Linked DNA regions of Homo sapiens. The protein of the gene in region 1 purifies or fractionates together with the protein of each later gene. This does not show direct contact. Each region holds a gene or a part of one and is shown on either strand. Other genes may lie near its edges.

Evidence for each region.
Region 2: the proteins of MARK4 (region 1) and RPIA purify together in Homo sapiens (affinity purification with mass spectrometry; one large-scale study listed by BioGRID and IntAct). This does not show direct contact.

What each region holds. Positions count from the first base shown.
Region 1 is NC_000019.10:45,295,236-45,300,559, reverse strand, and holds part of MARK4 (MAP/microtubule affinity-regulating kinase 4), read right to left. Parts: intron 2,885-5,324; coding exon 2,606-2,884; intron 2,418-2,605; coding exon of another isoform or gene 2,338-2,417; intron 750-2,337; coding exon 705-749; intron 1-704. UniProt on the Homo sapiens protein: Serine/threonine-protein kinase. Phosphorylates the microtubule-associated protein MAPT/TAU. Also phosphorylates the microtubule-associated proteins MAP2 and MAP4.
Region 2 is NC_000002.12:88,743,673-88,747,172, forward strand, and holds part of RPIA (ribose-5-phosphate isomerase), read left to right. Parts: intron 1-3,500. UniProt on the Homo sapiens protein: Catalyzes the reversible conversion of ribose-5-phosphate to ribulose 5-phosphate and participates in the first step of the non-oxidative branch of the pentose phosphate pathway.

The DNA.
Region 1 (5,324 bases):
CAACTGAACAGGCGTGACACAGGGTGCCTGGCCCTCAAAGCCTAAAATCTTCATGATCTGGGTCCGTACAGATGTTTGCCTCCTGCTGGCCCTGAGCTGCCAGCAAACATTGTGCCATGACTGGATGAGAGGCAAAAGGAGGTGGGGGCATTGACCAGAAGAGGAGTTGAGTTGTGGATGGGATGAGGCTTTTTTTTTTTTTTTTTTTTTTTTTTCAGACGGAGTTTCACTCTTGCTACCCAGGCTGGAGTGCGATGGCACAATCCAGCTCACCGCAACCTCTGCCTCCCGGGTTCAAGCGATTCTCCTGCCTCAGCCTCCCGAGTAGTTGGGATTACAGGCATGCGCCACTACGCCCGGCTAATTTTTGTATTTTTAGTAACGACGGGGTTTCTCCATCTTAGGCTGGTCTCAAACTCCCGACCTCAGGTGATCTGCCTCCCTTGGACTCCCAAAGTGCTGGGATTACAGGCTTGGGCCATGGCACCCAGCCGGAGGCTGAAGTTTAAGATGATCAAGGGAAGGTGCTTGGGGTTGGGTGGGAATGAGAGGAGCTGGCAGAGAAGGCTGGGGCCACAGGGCATTTCAGGAAGTTGGCCTTGCAGGATGAGACTGGGGCCCCATCTAATGCCCTGGGGTAAGTGTCGGGAGGTGCTGAGGCAGGAGAGGGGAAGTGGCAGTCAGGGGTAGGCCCAAGCACTCACCTTGTGACCTCAGGTCCCCCGATTCTCTCAGGTTCGTCTGCGACCCTAGGGGAGGGGAGGGGGACAGAGTGTCTAATCTGGACATAGGGAACCCACCTCCCGCAACCCACTGCCTCTGGGACTCCAAGCAGCCCCTGCCTCAACCCCAGTCCCTCCGGGCTGGTGAGGGCCTGGAGTCAGGATTTGATCTCCTTGTCCATCCCCATAACGGGGCTCATTCTGAAATGGTTAGTGCAGGTCACAGGAAAGATACTGAAGAATGTGGAAGATGAAAGGGAGGGGAGTGGGCAGAGACACACCCTTACATAGATAAGTGGCCACAGAGAGAAAGAGAGAGACACACGCACGTGTGCACACACACACACTCCCTCGCTCACATATACATTCATGCTTTGCTCAAACAACACCTCCTTCGTGAGGCCTGCCCTTTTTTCTTTTTTTGAGACAGAGTCTCACTCTGTCATGCAGGAGTGGCGTGATCTCAGCTCGCTGCAGCCTCAACCTCCCAGGCTCAAGCAATCTTCCTGCCTTGGCCCCTGAAGTAGCTGGGACTACAGGCGCGTGCCACATCTGCTTTTTGTTTTTTGTTTTGTTTTGTAGAGATGGGGCTTTGCCACATTGCCCAGGCTGGTCTCAAACTCCTGGACTCAAGTCATCTGTCCAAAGTGCTGGGATTGCTGGCCTGAGCCACCTCATCCAGAGGCCTGCCCATTTAATGCTGCACCCCATCCCTTCCCCACACCCCTTATTCCCCTCCCTGTTCAATTTTTTTTTTTTTTTTTTTTTTTTTTAGAGACAGGTTCTCCCTCTGTTGCCAAGACTGATGATCATAGCTCACAGCAGCCTTGACCTCCTGCGTTCAAGTGATCCTCCTGCCTCGGCCTCCCAATTCCATGGGAATACAGGTGCAGTCACCACGCCCGGCCAATTTATTTACTTTTTTGTAGAGATAGGATCTTGCTACGTTGTCCAGGCTGGTCTTGAACTTCTGGGCTCAAGTGATCCCCTCGCCTCAGCCTCCCAAAGTGCTGTGATTACAAGCATAAGCCACCAAATTTGGCTCCTACTCTATTTTTCTTCTTAGTTACTTCGCACTACCTAGCAGTCTATATAGTAAGTATATTTTACTTATTTCTTTGTTTTTTGTCTAGATCCCTTAGTAGAATGTTGGGTCTGCCAGGGCAGGAGTTTTGTACATTTTGCTCACCCTCTACTACAGGGCCTAGGACAGTGCCAGGCACACAGTAGGGGCTCAATGAATAATAGCAATTAATAACTAATACACATGTAAAGCACTTTCCAAGGCAATGTTCTACGCTCAGTCCATACGTCACTTCATTTAGTCCTCACAATAACCCTAGGAGACAGGTATTGTTATTACTATACCCATTTTACAGAAGAGGAAAACCAGGCCCAGAGACCTTGAGTGACTTGCTCAAGGTCACTTGGCAGAGCTGCCATTTGAACCCCCGAGTCTGGCTCCATAGGCTGTGCTTCTGTGAGTAAATGAACAACCAGACCCCACGCACAGACCCTCACATCCACAGAGCCCCCTCCCAATGCCCGCACACACAGGTCAGACATGCAGGCAGGGAGGCAGAGCCAGCGAGAACAGGGCATGGACGGGACTTACTGATCTTGGATCCCTGGGGCAGAGAGGCGCCCGAAACACAGCGGTTAGAGTTCTGCCGTTTAGAGGGATCGAGGGTAACCCTGCAGTGTGAGGAGGGAGGTGAGGGGTGACAGGGGAGGAGGAAAGGAGGAGGAGGAGGAGGAAACGAGGAGGAGGAGGAGGAGGAAGAGGAAATGTTGGGGTACAGGAGACAGAGCAGAGTGGAAGACAGGTTAGGTCCCATCGGCCCCCCGCCCCGCCCTGCCCCTGCCATCCCCGCGGAGCTCACCTTCGGGTCAGTTTGGAGGTCAGCTTGGTGAAGAGGTTGGTGGTGGGGCGGGGCCGCCCGGCGGGCAGGGGTGCAGCCTCATGGGCCAGTGTGGGAGAGGCAGGGGGCCCATTCTGCACACCCCCACCACCCCCACCCCCTGCCCGCCGGTCCCGGACCTGGCCACCATGGAAGGTGCTGCGGATGGTGGAACCACGTGCCAGGCGGCTCCGCTCCCCTGATGGGGGTGCCAGGCTGTGACTGGAGGGGGAGGCAGGGGGCACCCGTGGGGTGCCTGAGCTGTGGGCAGAGACAGACAAGTCAGGGTGGGGGACTGAGGCAGGCCAGGGCCCCAGTCCCTTTGATTCTTCACATTCCTGTCCTGAGACCAGGGACTGCAACCAGCCTGGAACTCAGAGACAGGGCTGCAACGTACAGTTGTGCAGGCTGTGCACTATACAATCCTAGCATTATTTTACTGACTCTCTCCTCTCCTATTACCCCTCCTTCAAACTGTCCCTTCTTCAAACTCTACCCGCTCCAAATCATCTCCTATCACAACTCTCCTCTCTCTAAACGCAGCAACTGAATAGATGCACAGACATTTTTGGGTGACTTCCTTGCTATTTGCCGAAACCTCAGGAACCAAATCAACTTGGCAAACACTTTGCTATCTGAACTCTCACCATCTAAAATCAGGAAAGGGATAGATGTAAAGGTCAAGGATACCTGTATTCACTATGGTAATCTGGGCAGTGGGGGTTCCACTGTCCCAGGACCCTCCTCCAGCCCCTCGGACCCTCCTAGTCGACAGCAGGGGCCAGACCTCCATCTCCTGAGTTCAATTCTCCTGCCTCACCCTCCTGAGTAGCTGGGATTACAAGCGTGTGCCACCATGCCTGGCTAATTTTTTTTTTTTTTTTTTTTGAGACAGAGTCTCACTCTGTCACCTAGGCTGAAGGGCCATGGGGCAATCTTGGCTACTGCAACCTCTGCCTCCTGGGTTCAAGTGATTCTCCTGCCTCAGCCTCCTGAGTAGCTGGGACTATAGGCATGCAGCACCACGCCTGGGTAGTTTATGTATTTTCAGGAGAGATGGGGTTTCACCATGTTGGCCAGGCTGGTCTCAAACTCCTCACCTCAGGTGATCCACTGGCCTTGGCCTCCCAAAGTGCTGGGATTCCAGGTGTGAGCCACTGCGCCCAGCCCAGACCTCCAATTTCTATCCTCCCAGGGACTCCAGGCCCAGCCTGGATCTCAGAGAAGAATCCTGATTGTGGCAGAGGCTGTTACTTCTCCCTTAGAATCCATCCTCCCTGTTTCGTTCTTGGTAACCAAACCCCTAAGAGTATGAGCACTGCACATGGCCACCCAGCCAGAGACTACATTTCCCAGACTCTCTTGCAGCTAGAGATGGTTATGTGACCATGCTCCGGCCAATGGGATATAAGCAGAAGTGCTCTGTACCATCTCTGGGTGACGCCTTTACAAAGAGTTGTTGCTTGTCCCCTACTCTTTCCCCACTTCTTCCTGATTGGGAAATGATGGCTGCTGGTGCAGCGGCCTCAGTCCCAGAGCTGGAAACTCATTTTGGGGCTGGAAGAACTTACCTGGGTCCTTGGAGGACCCTCCGGACTAAACGTCCTTTTTATTTAAATTACTCTACCCTGGGATCTCTTTGTTTTTATTACAGCAGCTAGCTGAGTCTATACTTTTTATTTTTTGTTGTTTTTAAATTTTTTTTTAATTTTTGATTTTTTTTGTCTGAGTCTGTAATTTAACTGTTCCACTATCTCTTGAGCAGAACTGGAAGGCCATGTACTACAGTGATTACAAATAAGATTCTGGAGTCAAGTCTGGAATCTGCTTCTTGACTTACCAGCTGTGTGGCCTTGGATAAGTTACTTAACCTCTCTGTGCCTTATGTCCTCAGCTGTAAAATGGAGATATTAGGATCTACCTCACAGAGTTGTTAGGGGCACTGAGCCAGGCAATAGACATAGAAGCCTGGCATGTAGCTGCTGCTTCATGAATGTTCACTATTGTTATTTGATAACCACCAAAAAAAAGCACTCTCAAGTCACTGAATGAAGGCCTCCTAAGCATCAGACCCAGTGCCAGGTACAGGACACACCTGATCTCTACTGCATCTCTATAATGGGGCCTGGAAGTGGACAGCATCAGCCCTTTTTTTTATGAGACGGATTCTTGCTGTGTGGCTCAGGCTGGAGTACAGTGGCGCAATCCCAGCTCACTGCAACCTCTGCCTCCCAGGTTCAAGCGATTCTCCTGCCTCATTCAGCCTTCTGAGTAGCTGGGATTACATGCACATGACATCGTTCCTGGCTAATTTTTGTATTTTTAGTAGAGACAGGGTTTCATCATGTTGGCCAGGCTGGTCTCGAACTCCTGACCTCAGGTGATCTGCCCACCTCGGCCTCACAAAGTGCTGGGATTACAGGTGTGAGCCACCATGCCCGGCCAGCATCAAGCCCATTTTACCGAGGAGGAAACAGAGGCACAGGGATTTACCCGGTCATTCTGCTAGCAGTGTGAGCACAGAGGTAAGATTCGAACTCAGAACTGAGTATTCACAGAATCGTGACTTTTTTTTTTTGAGATGGAGTCTCGCTCTGTTGCCCAGGCTGGAGTGCAGTGGCGTGATCTCGGCTCACTGCAAACTCCGCCTTCCAGGTTCACGCCATTGTCCTGCCTCTGCCTCCAGAGTAGCTGGGACTAC
Region 2 (3,500 bases), on another chromosome or scaffold:
TTTGTTGGCAGTTTTTTTAATTACTGTTTCAGTGTCGCTGCTTGTTATTGATTTGTTCATAGTTTCTGTTTCTTCCTGCTTTAATCTAAGAGGCTTGTATATTTCCAGATTTTCTAGTTCATGCACATACAGGTGTTCATAGTAGCCTTGAATGATCTTTTGTATTTCTGTGGTATTGGTTGCAGTATCTCCCATTTCATTTGTAATTGAGCTTATTTGGATCTTCTCTCTTCTTTTCTTGGTTAATCTCACTAATGGTCTATCGATTTTATCTTTTCAAAGAACCAGGTTTTTGTTTCATTTATCTTTTTTGTATTTTTTGTTTCAATTTCATTTAGTTCTGCTCTTATCTTAGTTATTTCTTTTCTTCTGTTGGGTTTGAGTGTGGTTTGTTCTTGTTTCTCTAGTTCCTTGAAGTGTAACCTCAGATTATCTGTACTCTTTCAGAGTTTTTGGTTTAGGCATTTAAGGCTATGAGCTTTCCTCTTAGCACTGCTTTTGCTGTATCCCAGAGGTTTTGATAGGTTGTATCACTATTATTATTCAGTTCAAATAATTTTTAAATTTCCATCTTGATTTCATTGTTGACCCAGAGATCATTCAGGAGCAGATTATTTAATTTCCATGTATTTGTATAGTTTTGAGGGTTCCTTTTGGAGTTGATTTCCAATTTTATTCCACTGTGATCTGTGAGAGTACTTGATATAATTTAGATTTTTTAAAATTTATTGAGACTTGTTTTGTAGCCTGTCATGTTGGAGAATGTTCCAGGCTGAAGAAAAGAATATATATTCTGTACTTCTTAGGCGGAAAGTTCTATAGATATCTGTTAAGTCCATTTGCTCCAGAGTATAGTTTAATTTCATTGTTTCTTTGTTGACTTTCTGTCTTGATGACCTGTCTAGTGCTGTCAGTGGAGTACTTAAGTCTCCCACTATTATTGTATTGCCATCTATCTCATTTCTTAGGTCTAGTAGTAACAGTTTTATAAATTTGCGAGCTTTAGTATTAGGTGCATATATATTTAGAATTGTGATATTTTCCTGTTGGACTAATCCTTGTATCATTATATAATGTTCCTCTTTGTCTTTTCTAACTTGTTGCTTTAAAGTCTATTTTGTCTCATAGAAGAATAGCTACTCCTGCTTGCTTTTGGTTTCTGTTTGTGTGGAGTATCTTTTCCCACCCCTTTACAGTAAGTTTATGTGAATCCTTATGTGTTAGGTGAGTCTCTTGAAGACAACAGATACATGGTTGGTGGATTTTTATGCATTCTGCCATTGTGTATCTTTTTATTTTTTTGAGACAGAGTTTCACTCTTGTTGCCCAGGCTGGAGTGCAATGGCATGTTCTTGGCTCACTGCAACCTTCACCTCTCAGGTTCAGGCAATTCTCCTGCCTCACCCTCCTGAGTAGCTGGGATTACAGGTGCCCGCCACCATGACTGGCTAATTTTTTTGTGGTTTTAGTAGAGACGGGGTTTCACCATATTGGCCAGGCTGGTCTCAAACTCCTGACCTCAGGTGATCTGCCTGCCTTGGCCGCCCACCAAGCCTGGCCCATTGTGTACCTTTTAAGTAGAGCATTTAGGCAGTTTACATTCAGCGTTAATATTGAGATATGAGGTATTATTTTATTCATCATGGTAGTTGTCTCCTGGATACCTTGTTTTTTTGCACTGTGATATTGTTTCATAGGTCCTGTGAAATTTATGCTTTAAGGAGGTTCTATTTAGGTGTATTGTGAGTTTTGTATCAAGATTTAGAACTCATTTTAGCATTTCTTGTAGGACTGGCTTGGTAGTGGCGAATTCTCTCAGCATTTGTTTGTCTGAAAATGACTGTATCTCTTCCTTATTTATGAAGCTTAGTTTTGCTGGATACAAAATTCTTGGCTGATAATTAATTTGTTTAAGGAGGCTAAAGATAAGACCCCAATCCCTTCTGGCTTGTAGGGCTTCTGCTGAGAAATCTGCTGTTAATTTGATAGGCTTTCTTTTATAGGTTACCTAATGCTTTTGCCTGGCAGCTTTCAAGATTCTTTCCTTTGTCTTACTTTAGATGACCTGATGACTATATGCCTAGGTGGTGATCTTTTTGCAATGAATTTCCTGAGTGTTCTTCAAGCATTTTTATTTGGATGTCTAGATTTCCAGCAATACCAGGAAAGTTTTCCTCAATTATTCCCTCAAGTAAGCTTTCCAAACTTTTTGATTTCTCTCCTCTCCTTCCTCAGGAACATCAGTTATTCTTATGTTTGATTGTTTAACATAATCCCAAATTTCTTGGAGGCTTTGTTCATTTTTTTGATTCTTTTTTTCTTTGTCTTTCTTGGATTAGGTTAATTTGAAAGCCTTGTCTTCGAGCTCTGAAGTTCTTTTTTTCTACTCGTTCTAATCTGTTGTTGAAATTTCCCAGTGTATTTTGCATTTCTAAAATGTGTCTTTCATTTCCAGAAGTTTGATTATCTTTTCTTTATGATATCTGTTTCTCTGGAGTCCTTTTAAATTTTCTTTAAGTTGGTTTTCACCTTTCTCTGGTACCTCCTTGAGTAGCTTAATAATCAACCTTCTGAATTCTTTATCTGGCAATTCAGAGATTTCTTCTTGGTTTGGCTCCGTTACTGGAGAGCTAGTGTGATCTTTGGGAGGTGCTGTAGAACCTCGTTTTGTCGTATTACCAGAATTTGTTTTCTAGTTCCTTCTCATTTGAGTAGACTGTTTCATTGGAAAGATCTGGAACCCAAGGGCTGCTGTTCAGATTCTTTTGTCCAATGGGGTGATCCCTTGATGGGGTGTTCTTCGCCTTCCCCTAAGGATGAGGATTCTTGAGAGCTGGACTGCAGTGGTTATGCCCTTCTGGGGTTAGCCACCCAGTGCGGCTACTGGGCTCCAGGCTGGTATTGGGGAATGTCTGCAGAAAGTCCTGTGATGTGATCTGTCTTTAGGTCCCCGAGCTGTGGATACCAGCACCTGCTTCGGTGGAGGTGGCAGGAGAGTGAAGTGGACTCTGTGGGAGTCCCTGGTTGTATTTTTGTTTAGTGCACTGGTTTTCTTGAATGCTGGTTTATGCTAGCAGTGAAGTTGCCATGTGGACAGACTCAGGATCTCTGGTTAGCCAGGATGTTGCAGGCGGTGGAATTAGCTGTTGTTTTTCCCTTTTTGGAGCAGGGTTGTTCTGTTACGAGTTTCTGTAGTGGCTTGAGTTGGTTGGCCTTCAGCGAGGAGGTGGTGCTTTCAAGAAAGCATCAGCTGTAGTAGTATAGGGGGGATACAAGCTTGTCTATGTAGGCCAGGATAAGTATTTTGGTTTCTTAGGTAATGGGCAGGGCCATAGAGCTCCCAAGAGTTTATGTCTTTTGTCTTTGGCTACCAGGGCAGGTAGAGAAAAACCATCAGGTTAGGGCAGAGTTAGGTGGGTCTGAGTCAGACTTTCCTTGGGCAGGGCTTGCTGTGGCCACTGTGTGGGGTTGGGGAGTGGTTCTCAGGTCAATGGAGTTAT